Linked DNA regions of Homo sapiens: regions 1, 3 and 4 are each linked to region 2. Evidence: fine-mapped expression QTL. A gene starts in region 2. Each other region holds a variant in brackets. All regions are shown on one strand. Distances are between the middles of the regions. Region 1 overlaps RAD50 (RAD50 double strand break repair protein). Region 2 holds the start of RAD50 (RAD50 double strand break repair protein). Region 3 overlaps RAD50 (RAD50 double strand break repair protein). Region 4 holds the start of MIR6830 (microRNA 6830).

What was found. PIP is the estimated chance that this variant, and not a neighbour inherited with it, causes the effect. A credible set is the group of variants that fine-mapping cannot tell apart.
Region 1: its variant is the best candidate, but not a certain one, in a credible set for the expression of RAD50 in whole blood (INTERVAL, PIP 0.89).
Region 3: its variant is the best candidate, but not a certain one, in a credible set for the expression of RAD50 in blood mononuclear cells (TOPMed, PIP 0.65).
Region 4: its variant is the best candidate, but not a certain one, in a credible set for the expression of RAD50 in prefrontal cortex (ROSMAP, PIP 0.61).

What each region holds. Positions count from the first base shown.
Region 1 is chr5:132,588,278-132,593,277 of GRCh38, reverse strand. It overlaps RAD50 (RAD50 double strand break repair protein), which reads right to left. Exons shown (of 25, transcript NM_005732.4): 8 at 4,398-4,591; 9 at 3,441-3,647; 10 at 1,872-2,054; 11 at 1,244-1,401. Among named protein-coding and RNA genes, the nearest start is that of RAD50, 34 kb to the right of the region's middle. The variant T/C (reference allele first, on the strand shown) is at 2,542.
Region 2 is chr5:132,554,296-132,559,295 of GRCh38, reverse strand. RAD50 (RAD50 double strand break repair protein) reads right to left here and starts at 2,319. Exons shown (of 25, transcript NM_005732.4): 1 at 1,843-2,319; 2 at 1-12. The coding sequence starts at 1,971. It also overlaps a transcript of IL5 not described here. RefSeq lists an enhancer at 2,036-2,696.
Region 3 is chr5:132,639,542-132,647,379 of GRCh38, reverse strand. RAD50 (RAD50 double strand break repair protein) reads right to left here. Exons shown (of 25, transcript NM_005732.4): 24 at 6,575-6,708; 25 at 1,031-5,202. The coding sequence ends at 5,016. TH2LCRR (T helper type 2 locus control region associated RNA) reads left to right here. Exons shown (of 3, transcript NR_132125.1): 2 at 5,098-5,182. Among named protein-coding and RNA genes, the nearest start is that of TH2LCRR, 13 kb to the left of the region's middle. RefSeq lists a silencer at 5,869-6,018 and enhancers at 5,185-6,580, 7,682-7,761. The variant G/C (reference allele first, on the strand shown) is at 4,732.
Region 4 is chr5:132,210,566-132,218,306 of GRCh38, reverse strand. It overlaps P4HA2 (prolyl 4-hydroxylase subunit alpha 2), which reads left to right. Exons shown (of 15, transcript NM_001017974.2): 3 at 459-555; 4 at 959-1,110; 5 at 4,254-4,391. It overlaps MIR6830 (microRNA 6830), which reads left to right and starts at 389; the gene lies at 389-458. The variant A/TTTTTTA (reference allele first, on the strand shown) is at 2,457.

The DNA.
Region 1 (5,000 bases), 34 kb before region 2:
AGACATCAGTTTGAAAAGAGCCCCAATTAAACTGAAGCAAGAACAAGTATCAAATTTATGGTGAAGTGTGGGTGGAAGAATGGTGAAATCATTGATACTTTACAACAAGTTTATGAGATCAATGCCCCAAACAAATCAGCAGTTTACAAATGGATAACTCAGTTTAAGAAGGGATGAGACGATATTAAAGATGAAGCCCACAGTGACAGACTGTTCACATCAATTTGTGAGGAAAAAAAATCATCTTCTTCATGCCCTAACTGAAGAAGATCAATGATTAACAGCAGAAACAATAGCCAACACCATAGACACCTCAATTGATTCAGGTTACACAATTCTGACTGAAAAATTAAAGTTGAGTAAACGTTCTACTTGATGGATGCCCAAAATCACTGCTTCCAGATCAGCTGCAGACAACAGCAGAACTTCCTCAATAAGTGGGATCAAGTTCCTAAAGCATTTCTTCAAAGAATTGTAACAGGAGGTGATGGAATGTGGCTTTACCAGTACAATCCTGAAGACAAAGCACAATGAAAGCAATGGCTAACAAGTGGTGGAAGTGGTCCAGTCAAAGCAAAAGCAGACCAGATAAGAGCAAAGGTCATGGCAACAGTTGTTGGGGATGCTCAAGGCATTTTGCTTGCTGACTTTCTGGAGGGCCGAAGAAAGGTAACAACTGCTTATTATGAGAGTGTTCTGAGAAAGCTAGCCAAAGCATTAGCAGAAAAATGCCCAGGAAAGCTTCACCAGAGAGTCCTTTTCCACCACAACAATGTTCCTGCTCATTCCTCTCATCAAACAAGGGCCATTTGCAAGAGTTTCGATGGGAAATCATTAGGCATCCACCTTACAGTCCTGATTTGGCTCCTCCTGTCTTCTAGTTTCTTAATCTTAAAAAAATCTTTAAAGGGCACCCATTTTTATGCTAGCAATGTAAAAAAGACTACACTGACATGGTTAAATTCCCAGGACCCTCAGTTCTTTAGGACTGAACTAAATTGCTGGTATCACTGCTCAGAAGAGTCTTGAACTTGATGGAGCTTATGTTGAGAAATACAGTTTATTTAAAATTTTTATCTTTTAATTCCATTTTTCCATGAACTTTCTGAAGTCTCCTTGTATGTAAGAACTAAAGTTTATCAATATAACATACCATTTCATGACAATAAATTATTTTAAAACAATTAAACAGGTAAGCATGAAATAAGAGATTTCTATTACATCTCCAAATGTTGCAACTTACTTCAATTTGGCAAGTCTGTCCCTGGTCTGATTAATTTCTTTTGATTTACTATGTAGCCAGTCTTCAAGCTGTTTTTTGTTGGGAAAATATCCCAACAGTGAGGTTAATTCATCACTGTGCCTAGATTTTATTTTTCTGATTTGTTCATCTTTGTCAGCCTATAGGTAAAAAAAAAATCTTTTAAAAATAAAGTCTATATCTCCACATTATATCAAGAACAAAAATAAATTCTAGACTGACTAAAGTTCTAAGCTTAAAACTATAAAAATATGAAAATAAAATATAAAATTTCTTAAAGTTCTTAAAGTCTTCAAGTGGGGATGGTCTTTCTAAGCCTTAAGAGTGGAGTACCAAGTCGAACAATATAAAATTTTAAAATTTGTGTATGTTAAAAGTTAACAGTAATGTGCATGTGTGTATATACATATATATACATTTCTGTATTAACTTTTTGTAATTAAACAATAACTTTTAAGCTTGAAAGTCTATTATATAGAGTACTAAGCTCACTTAGCCTCTAAAATATAGTCAATACCAACTTAATACCTTATAGTCTATGACTTATGAGTGCAAGGTAGGCTATTTTAAGTACCAGACAGTATAATTAGAACAAAAAGAAAAATCATACTTTGTCTTTGGTCAGCATCTCCATTTGGGTACGTGTTGTTGTATGATGGTTTAACTGCTCCATCTCCTGGTCAAGTTTACGCAGGGTCCTGTCTAAGTCTGCTTTTTCATTTTGGAGACTTATTACTTCCATTTTTAAGGTTTCTACATTGCTGTTTTTCTCAGCCTTGCTTAACTCACGTTCCTAGTCAATAATTCATACAAATGCAAAGGTGTTATATATTTTGTGCAAGAATTAAAATAATGACAAAGTGTATTAGAAATTAACTACTCCTCAGAATGTTCCAAATATTACTGTTTGCATCCAACAAGAGAAAAAAACATAAGGCACTATATATGCTCTAAGGTATATCTTATTAAAGTGACCTTACTATGTTATAATGGTAGAGAATTAGTAAATAAACCTAGAAGGGTCAAACAGGAAAGAAATGTGAGAATTACTGTAAAATTAGGAGACATGTGTCTAAGTACACAGATTAGTGAGTCCTCAGTCAACAATTAAATATTTATTATGTCCCCATGTAATTCACTATATTGCCTGGTATGTAGAAACTATAAAAATAGTGTGATGTGGTCCCTGACCAAGTATCTCCCCACCCCAACAAGACAACACTGATGAAGTGCTAAACTGACAAAAATGTATGCTACAATGGTGAGTTATGGAGCAAAAA[T/C]AAATGTTTACATAAATTATCAAGATGGGCTTTAAGAAGTTTGCCATGCTTTAGAATGCTTACTTTGGTAATGGAGATGTGAAGAAGGAGGACAGACTAGAAGCAAGAAAGAAAATATGGAAATACCTGAAAAGATTGGCTAAGAAAGTTTTTAACACAGAAAAAGTAATAATACAGCAAAAATCATCTAGAATTACAACGTGTGTGACCTAGAGGAAAAATACTTGCTTTTTTAAAACTTTGGCAAGTGTTCTTTTTCTTTTTTTTGAGATGGAGTCCCACTCTGTCACCCAGGCTGGAGAGCAGTGGCGCAATCTTGGCTCACTGCAACCTCTGCCTCCCAGGTTCAAGCGATTCTCCTGCCCTGGCCTCCCAAGTAGCTGGGATTACAGGCACACGCCACCACGCCCAGCTAATTTTTGTATTTTTAGTAGAGACGGGGTTTCACCATGTTGGCTGGACAGGTCTTGAACTCCTGACCTCACGTTATCTGCCTGCCTTGGCTTCCCAAAGTGCTGGGATTACAGGTGTGAGACACCGCACCCGGCCTGGTAAGTGTTCTTAATCAAGGTGCTCATAAGAATTAGCCAGTTTTGTTGTGTTTTGAATGTACATTTCTATGCCCCATTCTCAGAGATTTTGATTTGGAAGGTCTGAAGCTTTAAGGTCTGAGTACAGTATCTTTAAAAAGCTCCCTATGTGATTCTAATTTTCAGGCTATCGGGTTGTAGAACCAAAGAGTCAGAAGATCAAGATATTCAGATGAATTCATTTTACATGAGAATAAGACAAAGTTGATGTTTTTATTAAAATGCTATAATCTTAGGATCAAAAATAGACAAAATACTTCTAAAAGTATTATATCTTAAAATTATTAGATTATTCAAACAATATCTTACAGCTTTTATGAGCTCCTGGTCCAGTTCAAGAATCCTGTCTGAAGATCCTTCCAACTGCTGTAATTCATACTTCACATTTTTCAGCTCATTCTGCTTCTTACTTAGGATTTCTGATTTTAACTCAATTATTCTTCCCAGTCCAGTTTTCTTATCTCTTATCTCATCTATCTGTTTTTGTTTCAGAGTCTCTTTTTCTGCAAAGTCATTCTAAATGCATATGTAAAGAATGAGCATTAATAATTTACTAAACAATTTAAGTTTTTTAATTGCAAAAGGAATATATGTACACTGAAGAAAATACAAAAAAGTACAGTCGTGTGTTGCTCAGCAGGGATATATTCCAAGAAATGCATCATTAGGCAATTTTATCATTGTGTGAACATCAGAATGTATTTACATAAGCCTACATGGTATAGTTTAATACACACATAGACTATATGGTATAGCCTATTGTTTATGGGCTACAAACCTATACAGCATATTACTGTACTGAATACTTTGGCAACTGTAACATGATGATAAGTATTTATGTATCTAAACATATCTAAACACAGAAAACATACAGTAAAATACAGTATTATAATTTTATGGGACCAATGTCAAATATGTGGTCTATCACTGACCAAAACATGTGGTTCAAGACTGTATTTTAAAAACAATCAAAACCATTACCCAGAGATAATCATTAACTGTGAGCAAATGTTTTCTCTGCAATTAGTTTTTAAAAATTTTTACTTAAAACCAAATAAAAAATGTAGGTTTACATTTTCTTCATATTTTTATCTTTATACACTTAAGAACATTTGCTTCAATAAAGGTTTTTCTGCCTTGTAGCAGATTTTATCCTAACACTAATAGAAAAATATGCCAAAATGGAGTCCAACCAAAAATTAAAACAATTCAAGTAGAGAATATGATGCAAACAAAATAACAAATACTGTATTTCAAAATACTTGCCATCAGTTGGTTGGCAGTTTTTGCTTCCCCTTCTTGTCTCTCTCTCACAAGTTTGTGAAAATTTTTAATCTGTCTTTCACTGAATGGTCCACGCTCAAAGCCATCCAATTCTAGCTGTGTTGCCAAAGACTGAATTAATGAATCTCTAGCTCGGATATGTTCTTGATGGCGATCTGCTTGCAGCTGTAGACGACCTTTTAAAAAAAAAATCTCATAATTTTTTTTTCAACTGGTGCTTAAAAAGTTGAGATAGCTGCAGATTCACGAGTTATAAAAAATAATGCAGTGTGTCTCTTGTACATTTTGCCCAGTTTCTCCCAATGATAACATTTTGCAAAACTGCAGTAAAATATCACAACCAGAATACTGATATTGATATAATTCATCAATCTTATTCAAATTTCCCCAATTTTATTTGTACCCCTGAGCATGTGGATGTGTGTATATTAAGTTCTATATAATTTTATCACCTGTGTCGGTTCATATATCCACTATGGCAGTCAAGATACTGAACAGTTCCAATACTACAAGGACTCTCTTTTTGTTCTAATCATAACCATACCTAGCTCCCTCCTGTCCTTTCTCTTACCCAGTATCCCTGGC
Region 2 (5,000 bases):
TTCAATGATGGTCTAAAGAAATAGAAAATTACATTATTTCGTTATAAGAGAACCACAGAAGTTTACCATAAAATATGAATTCATTACAAAAATATTATTTATCATGGAAACTATAAAAGATAAAATCTGACATTATAAAACCTGTAATAAAAATATGATTAAGTGTTAATGCTGTAAGTTCACAGAAATGCTATATAACTAAGAAGTTATCCTAATATGAAGAATTGTTACTTGGGAAAAAAATAATTATTTTCAACTGAAACCCTTTAAACTAATTTAAGTTAATAATAAGAATGGCTAACAGTTAAGTACTGTATTGTACTAAGCACTCTTACATACATTTATTTAATTCTCACATTAACTCCAGGCTGTAGGAACTTTTTGTTTAAGAGACAGGGTCTCATTCTGCTGCCCAGGCTGCAGTGCAGCTGCATGATCATGGCTTACTGCAGCCTCGACCTCTCGACCTCCTGGGCTCAAGCAATCCCCCAGCCTCAGCCTCCCAAACGGCTCGGATTACAGTCGTCAGCCACCATGCCCAGCCTGTAGAAACTTTTTTTTTTTTTTTTTTTTTTTTGTGGGGGGAGAGAGTCTCCCTCTGTCACCCAGGCTGGTGTAGTGCAATGGCGTGATCTCGGCTCACTGCAACCTCCACCTCCCCGGTTCAAGCGATTCTCCCGCCTCGGCCTCCCCAGTAGCTAGGATTACAGGCATGCGCCACCACGCCTGGCTAATTTTTGTATTTTTATTAGAGATGGGGTTTCGCCACGTTGGCCAGGCTGGTCTCGAACTCCTGACCTCAGGTGATCCACCCGCCTCGGCCTCCCAAAGTGCTGGGATTACAGGCGTGAGCCACCGTGCCCAGCTGTAGAAACTATTTTTAATCTCCATTTTATAAATGAGAAAACTAAGGCACAGAGCAGTGAGGTCACTCGCAAACAATCAGACAACTAATAAATGAAGCGAAAAAGCTGTATTGAGGCAGCCAGTCCTCATAAACACTATACAGTACTACTCTCCCTTCTGCTAGTATTTAGTACAATCCTAAGTACATAACAAGCATTCAACAAATAACATTTTTACAAAAACAAAAGTAAACAAGTTTGGCATTCAATTCTCAACCTTCTCTCTTTCTACACTCTTCACAAATCCTTCCTTTAGACTCTTCTCCCTGCTATACTGACATCGTCTTGCTTTTTCTTAAGCCACTATTCCTGACCAGAATGCCTCTTGGTTATTCTTTCCATTCAAATTTATAAATATTCCCACGGCTTTAAAAAAAAAAAAAAGTCAGTCGTGCACCAACGTTAAATTTTTGACTGAGTTTTAAGAAGAGAAGTTTTCCAAGTTAAGCCCCACTACATCAGTTACATTTTGAATTTATTTATTTTCCATGTATTATGTCTGGACAGTTGGCATACTTGGAAACTCTTTAGTCATGTATGTATCATTTTATAACTTTTAAAGGAATTCTTGTATGGGACAACTACTGGGAAGTGAATGCTATGCTTTGAAAGCAAGGAGACAGCGTTAAAAACATCAATACAGACCAAAGGGCATCCAGTGGGAACTGAACTCTGAGTGAGCGGCGACAGCTCCCGGTATCGTGGGATTCTTAAGTAAACCTTGTCCCCAGGCCAGGTCCGGACATCCTTCCGAGACTGCTTCAGGCAAACTCCTAAGGTCGCTGTAGCCTGCAGGCCACACCCTAAGGCACTTTAAGGGCCTACACCTGTGGAGCCCTAGGGACGCTTCTGCTCCTAAGGAGAGTTCTCAACTTCCCATTTTATTCTCCGAAAGATGTAGCGACCTGTAAACTGAAGGCGGCTACTGAAGACTTACCGTCTTTCCCGCCCCATTGGGTCCAACCAAAATTGTAAGGGGGCTGAAGAAAGTGATAATTTGCTTATCTTTGTCCTCTATTCCAAAACTCCGCACGCCCAGAATGCTCATCTTTTCGATCCGGGACATGTTTGCAAACGTTTCTAATCTCACCAGGGACCTGGAGCCCACAAAGGCTTAACTGAGGCCGAAGCAAGGCGTGCACGGGACGTGAGACCCGCGAATCTCAGGGTCAGGAGGATCCGGGCGGGGAGCGAGGCCACAGGACTGCCAAAAGATCCTGCCAGCCAACAGCGGGAGAGAGGGGGCGGGGGATGGAGCCTTTCCTCCCACACCAGCTGCTTTCCCCGCCGGTGGGGAGAGCGGAGGCGGGGACCAGCCTGGGGCTGCCCGCCGGGGACGCAAAGCCGTAGCCACAATGCGACCCCGCAACCGCGCACTCACAGCTTCCTGCCTCGGCCGCCCTGCGGATCACGTGGGCCTCTAGGCCCGCACGCGTCCACGCCGCTCTCCTGGGGCACGCCGGGAAATCAGAGTCCCGCGGTGCGTGCGCAGCTCCGACTTCCGGGTGCGGTACGGCGAAGCAGAGGGCTAGGTGCTGGGTGCTGTTGCCAGGGGCAGCGGACTTCCGGATCTTTGCTGGGGATGGGCAGCCTGGAGAGGCACTGACTTTTGGAAGGGGAGACCAAGACCTGTGACGGATGGCGCTTCCCAAAGCTTGATCCTGGGACTCCTGGAATGGGGGTAGTGGTGGGGTGGATTGGAGACCCAGGAAGCGGGGTCAGTTCGTGTCAAAACTATTTTCCTTTTCATTCTCATTCTCTCTCTAACGTTCGTGTAGTAATTTCCAGTGATCACATAACATGTGATGACGCCATTGCAGTGGCGGTTAATGGAATGTGCGCATGTGTATTCTTGCGCTTAGAAATACCAATTTTAATTTCTAATTGAGTAAATGTTGATAATTATAACTCACGTACACGCTCTTTGAGGTCCCCCGTAATTTTTTAGTGTAAAGGCGTCTTTAAGACCAAAAGTCTGGGAACTAAAACTAAAAGCAGTCTGCAAATATGAAGAATGTAGAGGTAATCCATTCCGATCAGTGCTCCCAGCAATAGATATCTTTAAAAATAAGGGAAAGAGAAGTTACCTGTCTCAGAAGTAACTGAGAATATTGCTTTCTTGGAAACAAACTTAATGGAGGGATATCACATTTAAGGGCCTAGAGAAACATACATAAAAATTACTGAAACAATAGTGGAGGACATTTAAATGAAACACAAATTTGGAATTACTGTAGTGGTATAATTTGCCTCTGCCTGCCTTGGAAAAATGTAGGAAATGTTTCTCCAGTCATACAATCCCAAGCAAATAATTTACAGAACCTAATACATAAATGTATGTGCCAAAGGATGCAAGTGGGGAAGACCAGTGAGAAATAGTCTCTTGCTGTACCAGGTTAAAAAAAACCGGAAAGTGTCAGTTATTACAAAATAGTTAAAATAACTAATGGAACAAAACATTAAAATTATATAGGAATGTCTTACTTGGCAAAGCAAATGTAATAAAACAATGGGAAAAGACGAAAGACCTTTTTTTATTTTAAAAATTGTAAAATACACATAAAATTTACTGTCTTGGCCAGGCGCGGTGGCTCACGCCTGTAATCCCAGCACTTTGGGAGGCCGAGACGGGTGGATCACGAGGTCAGGAAATGAAGACCATCCTGGCTAACACGGTGAAACCCCGTCTCTACTGAAAACACAAAAAATTAGCCGGGCATGGTGGCAGGCGCCGATGGTCCCAGCTACTCAGGAGGCTGAGGCAGGAGTATGGCATGAACCCGGGAGGCGGAGCTTGCAGTGAGCCGAGACCGCACCACTGCACTCCAGCCTGGGCAACAGAGCGAGACTCCGTCTCAAAAAGAATTTACTATCTTAACCAAGTGTACATTTCAGTGGTGTTAAGTATACTCACGTACAACCGTCACCACCTTTCAACCTCTACAAATCTTTTCACTTTGCAAAACAAACTACCCATTAAACAATAACCCTTTCCTCCCCACATCCTCCAAACCCTGACAACCAACATTCTACTTACTGTCTCTATAATTTTTTACTAAGTACCTCATATAAGTGGAATCATACAGTATTTATCTTTTTGTGACTGGCTCATTTCACTTATAATGTCCTCAAGGTTCATCCATGTTGCAGCTCAGTCCCCAACCCCTGGGTCACTGACCAGTATGCATACCTGGCCTGTTAGGAACCTGGTGGCACAGTAGGAGGTGAGCAGCAGGTGAGTGAACATTACCACCCGAGCTGGGCCTCAGATCAGTGGGGGCATTAGATTCTCATAGGAGCACAAACCGTATTTTGAACTGCCCATGAGAAAGATGTAGGTTGCCCCATGCAAGGGATCTAGCTTGCCCATTCCTTATGAGAATCTAATGCCTGATGATGTGAGGTCGAACAGTTTCATCCCAAAACCATCACCCCACTCCTGTCTGTGGAAAAACTGTCTTCCGTGAGACTGGTCCCTGGTGCCAAAAAGGTTGGGGACCACTGTAGCATATATCAGAATTCAGGTCGTTTTTAAGGTTGAATAAGATTCATTACAATACACATCACATTTTGCTTATCCATCTATTGATGGACATTTGGGTTACTTTCACGTTTTAGCTATTGTGAATAGTGTGGCTATATATATTGGTGTACAAATGTCACTTCTGGACCCTGCTTTCAATTCTTTTGGGTATATACCCAGAAGTGGAATTATTAGATCATACAGTAATTCAATTTTTAATTATTTGAGGAACTGCCATACTGTTTTCCACAGTGGTTGTACCATTTGACATTCCCACCAATAGTGCATAAGGGTTTCAATTTCTACATATGCTTGCCAACACTTGTTATTTTATGTTTTTTTATGGTAGCCATCCTGATGAGTGTGAAGTGATACCTCATTGTAATTTTGATTTGCATTTCAATAATTATTAGTAGCATCATTTCATGTGTTTATTGGCCATTTGTGTATCTTTGAATAATTGACTATTCAAGTGGAGACTTTTTTTTTTTTTTTTTTTTTGAGATGGAGTCTCACTCTGTCACCCAGACTGGAGTGCAATGGTGCGATCTTGGCTCACTGCAACCTCCACC
Region 3 (7,838 bases), 87 kb before region 2:
CAGTTTGTCGCTATCCATTAGTTAATTTCCAAAGTTCTGAAAAAGTTGATTTTGACATTTTTGCCAGTCTTATTGCTTTTATGAAGAAGCAGATTTTGGATGGCTTTTACTCCACCCTTATGGAAGTAGAAATCCTTTAGATATTAAAATTATAAATTTGTACAGATCCTTTGGATTCAATCAACACCAAGGGGTTCTTTTTATGGCCTCCTTTCCTGATATGCAAACACCTTTTTCCAACAGTGAGAAACTCAGTTCGTATTATCTACAACACAGGTATGTATTTGTTTGACTTTAGTATGTACATAAAAATTTCGAAATTGCTAACCCACACCCCTGTGAGAAACACATTTTCTTGAGTTACTTTTTAAAAAGATCACTGGCTGCTGTGTTGAGAACTACAGGGAGCAGGCCCCAAATCAGTGGGAGCAGTTACGTGGTTACTCAGATTATTCAGGTTAGAGATGGCAGTGGCTTGGACCAGAGCAATGATGGTTTAGATCAGGGGTCCCCAACCCCCGGGCTGCAGACCATTACCTGTCCTCAGCCTGTTAGGAACAGAGTCGCACAACAGGAGGTGAGTGACAGGTGAGGGAGCATTACCGCCTGAGCTCTACCTCCTATCAGATTGGTGGTGGCATTAGATTCTCACGGGAGTGCAAACTCTATTGTGAATTTGCACGTGAGGGATCTAGGTTGCGTGCTCCTTATGAGAATCTGACTAATGCCTGATGATCTGAGATGGAACAGTTTCATCCCGAAACCATCCCCCTCACCCCACCCGTCCATGGAAAAATTGTCTTCCACTAAATCGGTCTCTGGTGCCAAAATGGTTGGGGACTGCTGGTTTAAATGGTGAGGCATGGTCAGATTCCGGATGTTTTGAAAATTGAACCCATAGTATTAAACTGACGAATTAGATATAAGATGTAAGATAAAGAATCAAGGATAATGCCAATTTTTGCCTGAGCAATTGGAATAATGGAGTTGCCATTAACAGAAGAGATTCAAGTTCTGGGAGAAAGACTGGTTTTGGTCATTTTAAGTTTTAGACGTTTATTAGATATTCAAGTGCAGATAGATGCCCAGTTATCCACAGGCAGCTGAATATATCAGTCAAGCATTTAGGAGAGATCTGGATTGGACACAAACATTTATGAGTTATCAGTGTATAGATGGTGGTTGTAGGAGTGGTCAGTGCCCTGCCTATATCCTATGATCCTAGGAACTGCCAGTGTGCTCCTGCCAACTTTCAGCTGCTGCTGCTTTTTTTTTTTTTTTTTTTTTGTCTTTTTAGACAGGGTCTCACTCTGCCACCCACCCAGGCTGGGGTGCAGTGGCACAAATCACAGCTCACTGCAGCCTTGAACCCTCAGACTCCAGGGATCCTATCTCAGCCAAGTAGCTGAGACTACAGGTGTGCACCACCATGCCTTGCTAATTTTTTAAAAATTTTATGTAAAGATGGGATGTCACTATGTTGCTCAGACTTTCTTTTTAAACTGTGGAAAGCAGCTGTGTCGGTACACATGGCAAGCCAGTAACTAACATGTGCTAGAATAGCCTTCACTCAGTAACCCTGGCAAGTTGTTATATAAATACTCCAGGTCTCTTGCCCCTTAGGTGGGATAATTCTGAGGTATATATTTTGCCAAACTCCCCAGAGTCTCCCTGGGGCACCAAACTCTAATTGCCCACTTACCGTAGCTGGCTTAATAGTAAACTTTTCATTGGCTGCTTTCTCTTTCATACACAATTTCCCCAATTTCCTACTGATTACTTTCACGTGAAGCATTGTTTTACGCTCTGCTTCTGGGAGAACCCAAACTAAGATAATTTAAAGCTATGAGACTGGATGAGATCACCAAATAAGTGAGCACAGAGAAGAAAAGAGGTGCAGACTCTGAGTACTAAAACCTGTGACATTGAGGGGCCAGGGAAATGAGGAGGAAACAGCAAAGGAAACGGGATGTGCAGGTGTTGCAGGGAGGAGGCAGAGCTGGATTCCAGTAGGGCTGGGGATTGTCGGGACAGTTTGAGTACAATGCAGTGGAGGGTGACATAATGATGAGCCATGGAATTTAAGTTGAATAAGGAGAGAAGTACAGGCATCAGGGAAACAACCTGTGAAAAAGCCATAGAATCAATGGATTGAAATCTCAGTGGGGTCAAAGAATTGCTGGGGTTGAGGACCACAGGAAAATTGTAGACACCATGGGGTTATTGGAGAGTGAGATGCTTAAAACTGAGATTTTGGAGGGGTGCAGTTATTGTTATTAAAAGGACGGGGCTCTAGAATAAGACCATAGAACTGAGTATCTTCTCACTGGAGGAAACAAAAAGGGGCTGAGGGAGGCCAAGGTAGGCAGATCACTTGAGGCCAGACGTTCAAGACCAGCCTGGCCAACAAGGCGAAACCCTGTCTCTACTAAAATACAAAAATTAGCCTGGTGTGGTGGTACATGCCTGTAATCCTAGCTACTTGGGAGGCTGAGGCAGGAGGATTGCTTGTATCAGGGAGGCAGAGGTTGCAGTGAGCTGAGATGGTGCCATTGCACTCCAGCCTGGGTGACAGAGCAAGACTCCACCTCAAAAAATAAAAAAGACTGAGAGGCCAAGGAGTTGTATTAGACCATCACTTGGATATTGAAATCAGCAATGATTATTAGTAATGGGGTGACACTGAACCGGGAGCTAAACTCTTCAACAAATAAGAGGGAGTGACCAAGCTGGGAATGAAAGATAACTGCAACAAGAGTGAAATGAAGACAGCTTTTTCTTGAACACTTACACAGTATTTAGTAGGTGGCAAGCAGTTCTAAGCAGTTTGTAAATAATGTCATTCAATCTTCATAACAACCCTACAAAATATGTACCATTTTACCCACTTTTACATATAAGGAAACAGAAAACAGGACAAATAACTTGCTCAAGGTCCCCAGCTAGTGAGTGGTGTGCTAGGATTTGAGCCCAGGCAGTCTGGCTCATTCTAACCTCCATCCATGCTGTGATGGCTATTCATTCCAATGTGGGGAAGGGGGATATTTGGAGACTGATCTAGAAGCAGCAATGAGAAGCCAGAAAGGCACCTATCCCACCTCCAAACCCATGGGCTTCTTGGAATGAAAGCAGCCACTCTCAGAAGTGCTGCCAAGGATGCCACATATTCAGGGGGAAACCAGATTTAAAATTGGGAAGTCTGTTTTAACTTGCAAATGATACTTTTGTTTCACTGCCTATATTGATCGTGTATTGCCTTTGTTATTCTTTGCTGCAACAACTAGCACTTTCATTAACATGTTGATAGAAGGTAACTGGCTTTAATATTTACTGAGAAATGTTTTATTTTGCAGTTAAGATGACTGTTTAATTTTGATTTAGCAACAGATAACATTAAGAAAATATTATTTGCAAAACTGTGAGTTTGCTAAAGCTAGGAGATGTTGAATTTTATCAAATATAGCTGCTAGAATTTTTTCAGAATTTTTTTCACCTTCGGTTTTATTATAGTGATGGATTTATCAACAGATTTTTCATTTTCTGAAATCTTGCATTCTTGGGATAAAAATATCTTGGTTATTGTGGATGTTTAATATATGACTAGAATTGATTTGCTCTTAATCTTACTCGTGATTACATTTAGGACCCCCCCCCACCCCACCACCACCCCCAGGATACTCTGTCTTAAGGTCCTTAGCTTTAATCACATCTGCAAAGTTTCCTTTGCTGTATAAAGTAACAGTCACGGGTTCTAGAAATCAGGACCTGTCTATCTTTGGGGGCCAACCATTTAACCTAGCACAGATAGATGCCTTAGGACCTTAGGGCTTAATTCTCTTCTGGACCCAGTTGAGAAAAGCTGTCTAGGCAAACATGCTCATTATAGCTACAGATGGCACAAAACCATGCCATGTGACTGAATCAAGACCCGGTATGGTCCTGGCTGACTCTGAATGACAAAACTCTACAAAGCATAATTCAAAAGCGTGTGACTTGGTTGCATTCTGTGTGGAATGGAAGGATTCAAGATGTCAGCTGGCAATTCCAGGAAAAACTGTGATTAGGCTTTTCTTAGAAGTGGCATCTGAAGAGCAAATGGAGAGGCCTGTTCTTCCAGGTCTGGTTGGACCCTACAGGGAGCAGGCCTTGACTCTGTGAGTGAGCCTGGCTTGCCTTCCACATGGCAATGCCCACTTAGAGAGGAATCAGGATTGATGGTGAAGCCAGTATGCTACACAGGATAGACGCAGAGGAGTGTTACAGGCTTCTTCACGATGGGCAGATCAGGCCTCAAGTGGTCAGAGCTTTCCAAAGGTGGGTGTGCACAGTGGAGAATTTCCTCTCTGTAGAGAGAGCTCTGAGTCTGGATGACCATCTGGAAGGGATATGTAGGAGAAGAAGGTGGTGGGTACTGACTTAGATGATTACTTAAGGTTCCTGTCAAACTTTGAGACCCCATTCAACTACTTCAAATTTTAGTTGGGGAAACCAAGTCCCAGAGAGAGAGGTCACTGGATTTATAAAGTTAAAAGCAGAGCCAAACATACATCTCACCATTTCTGGTCATCCTCAGATATTAATACTCAGTTTTTCAAACCACATGCAAGGAAGTAAATTCAGAGGTAACATTTAACTATGATTTAAAAAAATACCAAAACCATAAATTTTCAAGGCAGTAATTATCTCCTTCTCAACAGTGCTTTGAGAAGAAGCATGCATTTGCACTGGGGA[G/C]GGAGGCACAGAGTCGAGTCTCGGCTGTACTGCTGAACCCTGAAGGCCTGACAGAGGCTGCCTGGAATGGGATGAAGAGCAGCAAATCAGAAACAGGCAATCTGTCCAATTTTCAGTGAAACAAGTTTCATGATTTTAGAACCTCTCAACATCCAAAATCCTAGACACAATGTTCCTTTGAAAGAATATATTTTCTTATTGACTAAGTTGATATGAGAAATAAGTTTCTTATTATACACTTTCTGAGGACCTACATTTCTATGGCATTTAAATCTTGGATATTTTTAATGAACATTGAATCCCAGGGAGCTAACACTGCATTTCACAATCTCTGAGCACTGATCGATGTTCTTTTTAATCCTGTAGAATTTCTCCACATATTCAGAACGTCCTAAAAGCTCCACAAAATCTTCATCATGAGTGATTACCAGAAGCTGGAAGTTACGCTGCTGTGAGCGACTTTTTATTATCCTGCAACAATATATTCAGAACATATTATTAGTAAAGAGCATAACCCCTTCTTTGATTTGAAAAGTCACCGCAAACCTTGTCAGACACATGAACTTGTGCTGTGTGTCAGGGCCCCAGCTACCCTGCAGGAAGTGGAGGGGTGGCCCCAGGCCTTCAGGCCAGCCAGGCAGGAGTCTCTTCTCCTCTCCAGACAGTAGGGACACATGGCCTGACTCCTCACTTAGGTCTGGCTTAGGGACTCACAGGAATACAAGAACTAGTTTCTTCCAGATCAGAAGTTCTCACTAAAGCAGGTATAAATATTTTATTGAGTTTTCCTTAATATCCAAACTGTTCAACTATAGAAGGCTTACTCCTTCGCCTGGGATTTTCCTGACCTGTTACTACTTTTCTCTGGAAGAAAAATTTAAAAGTAATAAAGACAAACTACAGGTAAGGGGAATAACACTGCTTTCTTAAGAGCTGGGTCTACTTAGAATTCTGCCACCACCAGTCACTAGATGCATCATTACTATGACACACAGGGACCTGAGTGGGTGTTCTGGGAACATTTTGCTGAGGTAACCAGCAATGTGACTGAAACCTGAAAGACTTTTTCTTTTAGCTAGCCACTTATCCCCTTCCTGGAGCTGGATGCATTTGAGGTTTCAAAAGCACTCGCCCTTACTTGTGATGATGGCTGCAGAAAGGTGGCCCTGCGCTGCTGAGCTCTCCTTCTGGCCCTCTCTGCCAGAAAGGGACTGTCTGGAGCCAGGAGTGCCTGAAACACCTCCTTTGACCTCAGGGAAACTGCCTTTTTCTCTGCCAGCATAGTCCTTATGCAAGAGCTGCTTGACAACCTTGGCGTCTACACTGACCCCAGGTGAATGTGGTAAAAGGTGTGCAATTTTACCCTCACTGGACTTTACCTAATCTCAAATAAGCTTTTTGAGTAAGAGCTCTGTCATTCCTCACAGTTCTCTGACACATGTGGAAAGCTGGGGAGACAGTCCTAAACCCACTACCACTACCTGCAGATGTCTTAGCAGGGCATGCTAATTGCTGTGCATGACATGTGGGTTCCTCTGGTAGGTTTACAGGAAAACCAGGCCAGGAACCCCTCACAGTGACTCTCTCCCTGTGAACACACTTGGGGAGCTGCAGGATGTGTCTGGGGCTGCTGTTCACCATCTAGTTCCTTTAGGAGGGATCTGAAGAATTACTATCAAAAGGTAAAGCCCAGGGCCTGGCACCAACTGGCTTCCCCAAGAAGTGGGGAACACAGCTAGAGAACGTTTTCATCACAGAACTCTCTTGGTTTTGAAGAACTATCACAACCTGTCCCCAAATGTGAGATACTTACTCAACCAGAGCATGTGCAAGAGATACTTACTCAACCAGAGCATGTGCAAGAGATTCAATGTTTTCTCGGTCAAGATTTGTTGTTGGCTCATCCAAGGCAATGATGCCACAGTTGAGGCAGAACGTTTCAGCCAGGGCCAGGCGAATGATGAGTGAGGCTAATACCTGGAAAAAAGCCCCTATGTGAGAAGCCCAGCACAGACCTTCTCATCTCATGGCAGGCAAGCAGTCCTGACATGATCTTTTCAGCAGGGAAAAGTGGGAAACGTCACAGGTTCACTGTTAGGTAAAGCACTGCCCTCTGGGAGAGCCCAGCACTGGGACCAGATTCTTATGTCCTCCAGAAGGAGAACCTGCATGATCTCAGCCTATCATTCACCACAAAACAAAATGCTCAGAACAACGCTGATGCTCTCACATAAAAAATTACATCAGCTACAACCAACTTGAGACCAAAGGCTAGAAACAGAGACAATGCCATTTATCTGTAATTTTAATAATCCTGTAAGATGAGCAACCTTAAAAATTCTTGACCTGGCTATTTGCCTGATAATGGGATCTGTTAGAAAACTTCGACACGTTTTCTAGAGCCTCTCACTTTTTCTCTGCTACCTTTAAATTTCCATATTCTTGTGTATAATCCTGAGACTGAGAGAATAAAAAAGAAAATCCTAGGTCAAAGTATCAGGAGTATAGAAATGTGGTTTCAGTTAAGCTTACCTGTAGAAAATCCAAGTAACTGGAACTGTTAGGCATTTTCGTGGTTACTAGAAACCTAATACTAAAACCCTCAGACCCACTGAAACCATCTGAGGATACAAGACACACAGAATTGAGAGAGTAGGGCTATTCTAGGAAGTATAAACTACTCTGGTGTGAGCTGTAAGTCCCCTTTCCCCCTCAGTTTGTGGGTGGGTGCGCACACATCAGTGAGTTGGTAATTTTAGAATAGTTTATGTCTTTTCTTTAATGCCTAGGCAAGCCAGAAGACAGGGCCACAGCTTGGCCCTGTGAGGGACAGGCATTTCCTTCCTGTCTTTGAATCCAAACTGCTGTCAACTCTACCACCACCCACTCACATGCAGAGCCCCTGGCTGGCTGCTAGAGCCTCAGCAAAAGCCAGTGTTAGGTAGGCTGGAGGCCCACCTCCATTATTTGTTCTCTCCCCTCACACCAAGGAGACAATTATTGCTAATTAATTTTCATAACTCAGAATAGCTACAAAAAATCTTTTTCCTCAAGATATTTTTGAAAGTATTTTTAATTCAAAGAGACCATGTTTCAAACTCTGTATT
Region 4 (7,741 bases), 340 kb after region 2:
TGGGCTCTCTGGTCTTTTTGACCACCTTGCCCATGGACCAGAGAGTGGTTCTGAGCAGCAAATCCTTTGTATCCTGAGGATCAAGCTTTTCCTATCCTTCCGACCTAAAGTTCAGAGCTTTTTATCCTGTGGTGAGCCCCCAGGATATCCATGCCCCAGTGTCATGACCAGCTATGTAACAGTCGGAGAATGAGATTTAGGGCTGCTTCTTGAGTGACATCCAGTGCACTTATCTCAAACATCCCCTTGGTGCCTCTGCCTCTTTCTTCCTGAAGTTGCGAGATAGAGCCCCATGAGTGCCTAGGCCCCCTTTAACTCCAAGTCCCCATAATCCTCAGAGAGCTGACATGTTCTTATCCCAGGGGACTTGCTTCTGTGCTGGTATTCTGTGCCCCAAGGAAGGAGGCTGGACATCCCTCATCTGTTTCTCACTGGTGTCTTTCTTCTCTCCCTTGCAGGGCACATGACTGACCTGATTTATGCAGAGAAAGAGCTGGTGCAGTCTCTGAAAGAGTACATCCTTGTGGAGGAAGCCAAGCTTTCCAAGATTAAGAGGTGTCCTAAGTCCCCAACCATCCTTAGTTGGCCTTCCTTCCCTTCTGCCCCTCAAGGAACAAGGAAGCCATCCAGGGTGCCTATAAGAGGAAACCTTTGAGAGGGTGATGTGGGGCTGGCCTGGTTACTTCATGCCAGTGCTTGAGAGGAGCTAAGTACATGGGCTAAGGAGTCACTGTTTATTTTCTATTTAAGACCTTTTCCCTTACATTGGGGGTCCCAGCTGTTATCTAGATTAAGGGGCTAGAAGTATCTGTGGGGAGTTACTGTATTCATTTTTCATTGCCTCTTGATGAAAAGGGCCCCAGAACCTGGCACCAGGGAATTCTCACTAGGAAAATTGTCACAGGTCAAGACCTATGTGGGTGGACGCATTAGTCTTCCTTTTCCTCTGGTTCCACAGCTGGGCCAACAAAATGGAAGCCTTGACTAGCAAGTCAGCTGCTGATGCTGAGGGCTACCTGGCTCACCCTGTGAATGCCTACAAACTGGTGAAGCGGCTAAACACAGACTGGCCTGCGCTGGAGGACCTTGTCCTGCAGGACTCAGCTGCAGGTGAGGGACGGTGAGCAGGTGCTTGAGTGAGCCCATATGTTTGTGTGCTCATGCCTGGGTTGTTGTGTCTGAGCCTGTCTTGGGTCTGGGTGTTGGTGGGCAAGTACATTGTGGAAACAGGACCCTGCTGGTCTCATGGCTCTCTCCCTTCTCTGTGGGGACCTGGAAGTTGGCTGGCCTTGGTTTTTAACATGTAATGATGTTCAGTTCTTTTTTTAGCGTCTTTTTTTTAGTGTCTGTCTTTTCTTATTTTTTGCTAATGACATTTTTCCAATTATACTTTAGTGATACATGTTTATAGAAAAGTCGGAAAACACAAAAACAAGAGAATTATAATTCTTAATCCAGTTGCCCAGTGGTGAGCATTATTAAAATTGTAGTTTTTCTACCTATGCATATACATTTAAAAAATGGAACTATACATACATACCAGGGCATGCAAACTCAGTTGCTTGGAGGGACAATGAATTTACAAGTGTCAAGTGGGCTGGATGGTGGGGCCAGGGCAAGTTGGGGAGCATAGGTCTGATCTAAATTCATTCCTATTCATATGTTTTACAAACAAAGCATATCTGTTGGTAGATTTGTGACAGAAGAAAAAATTCTGTGAATTTCTCAGCTTCTTTATATGCCATTCAATGTTCTTCTGCAACATGATTTTAATGGCTGGATGGTGATTACCTGTCAGATGGTGATAATCTGTCATACTGATAATACTGTCAAATGGGTCAAGTCATTGGATATGGGATTTTTTCTGAATTATCAGCACCTTTTTACATATTTCTTGGTGTATACTTCTGATTACTTTTTTAGGGTAAGTTCCTAGAAGTGATATTACCGATGAGAGTGTGAACTTTTTAAAAGCTTTAAACTATACTTGGTGCTTTTATTGTGATAATACTTTTTATGCCCTAATACTTTTCTGTCAATAAGAAGAGATGGTACGGTGGGCCTGGAGGTGGGCTCTCCTAACTCCTAGCCCTGGGTTTAGTCCCCTGGACTCACTGACTTTTTTTTTTTTTTTTTTTTTTTTTGAGACTGAGTCTCACTCTGTCACCAGGCTGGAGTGTAGTGGCGGGATCTCGGCTCACTGCAACCTCTGCCTCCGGGTTCAAGCAATTCTTCTGCCTCAGCCTCCTGACTAGCTGGGACTATAGGCACATGCCACCATGCCCAGCTAATTTTTTTTTGGTATTTTTAGTAGAGACAGGGTTTCACCATGTTGGCTAGGATGTTCTTGATCTCTTGACCTCGTGATCCACCCATCTCCACCTCCCAAAGTGCTGGGATTACAGGTGTGAGCCACCATGCCCGCTGCCTTTTTTTTTTTTTTTTTTTTTTTTTTT[A/TTTTTTA]AAGGGACAGGGTCTCACTATATTAGCCTAGACTGGAGTGCAGTGGCTATTCACAGGTGCGATTGTAGCACACTGCAACCTTGGACTCCTGGCCTCACGTGATCCTCCTGCCTCAGCCTCCTGAGTAGCTGGGACTATAGGCACAGTGCCATTGTACCCAGCTCTTCACTGCCTCTTTTCCCTGAGCTGTGAGTGCTGATTAACTTCAGACTAGCTGTCTCTCTGGCTGAGACATTTTAGCCCATGTGGCCAGACTGGGTTGGGCCTGGGGGCAGGGTGGCCTCTGGAGAGGGATTGGTGAGCTCAGCCAGGCTGGAGCTGTGCCCAGTGAGCTCACTGCCTCCAGAAACCACGGCTGCCTTTCCCAGACTCCCGCCTCTCCGCCTGGGCCTGCAGCTCGGGACAGGCTGTTCTGCCTGCACGGCAGGAGACTAAGCCTACCCAGATGACCTCCTCTCTCCAATCTTGTTCTCCACACCCTACACTCCCACCATCATCTGGTTCCTTTGGAAAACCTTATGATTACCTGGAAGGAGATAGGGCAGGCCCAGAGAATAATTGGTTGTTTTCATCTCTGACTTTGAGTTCTTGCCCCTGAAACGAGCAGGGCATGCTGACAGTGTGGCTTTTCCTGGCAGCATGTTCCCCTACTCCCACCCCACCAGATTCTAAACTCTTTAGAGTCCCTGACCATGTAGCTATGAAGACAAGGAAGGCAGGGTTACAGCTTCTTGGTCCCTGTCCCCAGTTATGGCTGAAGTGGATGTTTAGGTCTGAAGTCATAGGTGGCAGTGGATACAGCTACTCTTGGGAAGAGGTTGGGGAAGGAATGGCCTTGTTGTTCCCCTCTCACTTCTCAGCTTAGAGGCAGAATTGAAGGCCCTAAGTCAGCCTGGGAAGGCTTGGCTCCCACCTGGGATTGTAGGAGGTACACATCTTACTTTACAGCTAGGGCTTGGAGTCCCAGAAAAGCCTCCTTGGAGTACTTCTGTGGTCAAAAGCTCTCCCACGCTTCAGGCTGTGGTCTTGAGCACCATAACTGGAGAGCCCATGCCCTGAACTCATTGAAGGTCTGAGTGGTGGGAGTACAGAGGAGAACAGGCCCACCGTGGTCTCTTAGGGGACGGACCTTGCTGGGTTGGTGCAACCCCACCTTGGTCCTTGGCCTGTCTAGGTGGTCCTTCAGCTGTCAACCTAGGGGGAGGGGGATGACTTCCAGGACTTTCATCATCACCTTTCTGGATGATAAGTGCCAGTGGTCAGTAATGAGTGGCCAGCTCGGCTTCATTAGTTAACTGTCATTGTCCCTTGGACTCCTCAACTTGAAATGTGTGCTGGAAGTCTGTGTTTACCTGACTAGCCCAATTACCCTGGATCAAGGTTTTCCATGGGATTTATTTTCCACTGAGTGGTTGACAGTTCTTCCTGAGTCCTCTCCCGTGCTCTTCTCAGTTACCCTCTCTATCCTCTGTTTCTTCTGTCTCCACCAGCTCTGACTGAATGATTTGGAGCCAAGACTTCTGGACTCCTAAATATTAACCAATATGGGGGGCTGCTTCTACTTAGTTCCAAAGAGCAACACAGGCAGTAGGTATGGTGAGGAGTAAGAAAGGAAAAGTCCCCATAGACTGGAGTCATCAGGGACAACTTCCTGGTGGAAGGGGGCAACAGCCTTTGAGGGAGGGGGCGGGGAAATTTCACTAGCCAGAGACCCTCTTTGTGGCTGCCTCTCTGGTCCCAAGTGGAATTCTGCCCCTGGATCAAGGGTAATCTCTTGTTCTGACTCTCATTTGGAAGGTTTTATCGCCAACCTCTCTGTGCAGCGGCAGTTCTTCCCCACTGATGAGGACGAGATAGGAGCTGCCAAAGCCCTGATGAGACTTCAGGACACATACAGGCTGGACCCAGGCACAATTTCCAGAGGGGAACTTCCAGGTAACTCACCACTCCAGGCGTTGCCTGTCCCGCATGTGTCTCTTTAGTGGCGGGACAGGTTGGAGCCACCACCAACTTGTGGCCTTTAACCTCGGGTGCACCTCTGGTGCACCTCTTGGCTCACCAGTTTGTGCTGGACTCCCTCTCCCATGACAGGTTTCTCCCTCAGCCCCTGCCCTGCCACCTCCCTCCATGTATTAGCCAAGGCCCTCTCCTCTTGCATCTCAGAGAAAGCCAAAGTTGCTGCTCAGGAACCCCCTCCACGTCTGTCCCCAGAGCACCACACAGATCTGCATTCAGACCTGCTTCTTGTCTCCCACCCTCCAATGTCTTTTCATCTAAGGCTGATCTGGGCTTACTATCCCCCTGTCTTGAGTCCTCTTAGTTACAGTCTCTGCTCCTATACATTCTGTCTCCACCTCTCTGGGTTCTACCCTTGAGCTCCCATATAGGCTCTATTCTTGCTCATCTTAACACTTGCCTCCCTCGGTATCTGAGAGTCTTTCGAGTCTTTGCTGCTGATTCATCTCTTCTCCCCTCCTGGTTAGGCTACTGGATAGAGTAATCTACACTCTGTCCATTTTCCTGGTTCCCATATACTCCTGAACTCACAGTATCTGGCCTTTTTCCCCACTGTCACTGATGCTGTTCTTACAAGGTCATCAGTGGCCGCTTGGCTGGTAAACCCAGCGAACAAGGTTCACACATAATGTTCTTTAACTTCCCAGCAGCATTTGACAGATAGATTGCCTCATTCTTTGTGATGTTCTCTCCTCCTTTGAATTCTGGCATACTGATATCTGCTTCTCTTTTAGCCTCTCTGGTCATTTTCTCTCAAGTGGCCCCTCTCCCACTGACTTCCCAGTGTTAGTGTTTATAAGAAGATGTTTTGAGGGCTGCTGGAGACAAGTAACCCCAGCGATTCACTGTGTGAGGCTCATGCAGACCCAGCTTATTCCAGCTCCAGAACCTCAGCTGCCCCCTTTAGACTCCATTAGAGAGAGGGCAGTTCAGGGCACCTGCAAGATCTGTTCACTCTGTAGCCTTGAGATTGGTTGCTTGGAGGAGGGAACCATACCCTGGCGTTGACCTCTCACGTTCACTCAGCAAACCCATGAGTGTCCTGAATAGGGTTATGGGGCAGAAAGGAATTACTCCCTAGGACTCCATCCTTACCTCATCTTCTCCCTGAGCACCTTCCCCAGGTGAGCACAGCCATTTCCATCACCTGAGGTGGATGACATCCAGATCTGTGTTTCTTGCCAAGGCTTGTCTCCCGAGCTTCTAACCAGTGTAGACGGATGCCTTTGGGACATCTGTACTTGAATGTCCCATGGACTTCTCGAACTTCATGTGTCCTGAACTGAAATCCTCATCTCCTTGTAAACACTTTACCTTCCCCCTCATCCTTCTATCTCAGCAAAAAGGACCTCCATCCTCTGGCTGCCTAAGCCAGAAGCCTAAGGCCTATGGATTCTACCTCCTTCTCTCATGTCTTCCGTGCTTATCCCCTGACTCCAGCCTCACAGCTACTTTTTTCTCAATTTGATTATCAAAATACCATTCTGACTTGTCTCCTACCTCCAGCTTACTGCTTAAGACCATCCTCCATGTGGTCTTAAGCACACATTTGTTCACATGAGTTCCTGATTACTGTGCTTAATTTCCAAAGCTAAACCCAAACTCCTCCTGTGTGTGGTCTTTGGGGTCCTGCATGACTCCATTTTCCTGGCTTCCTTGCCCATTGTACTCAGCTTTCCCTATCACTCAGCTCTTTTGTCTCAACCCCTCTATAGGAATACCTTTACCCATGTCAGCTAGGCTACTCCATGTCTGATTGCCTATCAGCACTCAGCTCAGCTGTCACTCTCCCAAATGCTCTCCAGGGAGTAGACATTCGAGTTGGCTCTGGGGAGGATGCTGAGTGCCAGGGAGCCATTCTTAGCATTCTTGGCATCTGGGAGACATGTTGATAATAGCTACTGGTCATTAGCATCCTGGGGAGCATAGGAGACATCTTCATATGTCATCTTATTGAATTCTTGCCACAAGCTCTTTAAAATTGATGATATTATCTTTATTTAGAGATAAGGGGACTGAGACTTAGATATGGTAACTTGTCTATAGTCACACAGCTGGTTGGCGCCCTAGTGAGGCCAACACAAACCTAGTTTAGTTCAGCTCCAGAGCCCCAGCTCAGTCAGCTATGTTACTCTGCCCCAGCAATGTAGGTTCCTGGGCCTGCAGAGCCAGAGGAGACCTGTGGAGAAGGAAAAGGGGCTCCAGGAGCCCCCCAGTCCCTGGCCTACCTAGGGACTTCATCTTGTGTTTACTGTCCCCAACTTCCTATTCCTCGTTATTGGTTCCTGAGCCACCGGGGTTAGCAGACCCTGGTCTCTGAAGCATTTAGCCTACTGTGTAGTGGTTTCATTCCAGGCAGAAAGAGCCTTCTCTGAGTTCTTTTGTGTCAGCCATGCCCAGGTTGCTGTTAATGGGGCTGTGGGGAGTCTTCCTTGCTTTCCAGGGAGAGTCACAGCCCCCACTTCCCCTCCATGGTATCTGCTTTCTCATTATTCTCTGAGGAACCACACACATAGTCTTTCCCATCTTGAGCTCACCCTAAATCCTGCATCTCCCTATAGCTGCTTCTTCATATTGGCTTGAAACTATCTTCATGGTCACTTTCCAGCACTCCCTCTACAGCAGATGACCTTTGGTCATAAGACCCACTGAACTGATACTCAGCAAGGTCCCTGCCACTTAACAGCCAAAGCTGGCACTGCAACCTTGGCTCTTGGCCTCCCTTGGTGTCTCTCACACCACTCCCGCTCCCTCTGTTTCTCCTATCTTTAGTTCATTCTCAGGGTTATTCATTGTCTGTTCTTTCTGGGTAGGTGCTCCCTGGAGCTCTGGCCTTAGTCATCTTCTCCATTCTTTCCTCAGAGTTCCTGCAAGCTATTTTCCTCACCCATGGCTTGGTTGCCACCTAAATTTATGTTTTTTATATTCAGCTAATTTTTCCATCCTCTAGACTCATATGGCAAACTGCCCACCAGACATCTTCTTCTCTGTGGTCCACAGGACCTTCCCACTGTCCTCAACAATGCTTCCTGGTGGGTTTCTGGGGCTCCCCCTAAAAAGGCCCCTTCCCACTTGGGAGATGGGGAATCTGAGGCTAAGAGGTGGCTGTGAACCCCAGTCCAGGGCAGGGCTGGGCCATCTGTCTGTGCTCACTGTGTCAGTGGCCCTTTAGGATATGCAGTCTAAATGTCCGATGGAGTTCTGCTTGGTGATGCCCCCTATCCAGTGGCTCAGGCTTTCCTTGAAGTGGGAATCTCTTTCCCTAATCC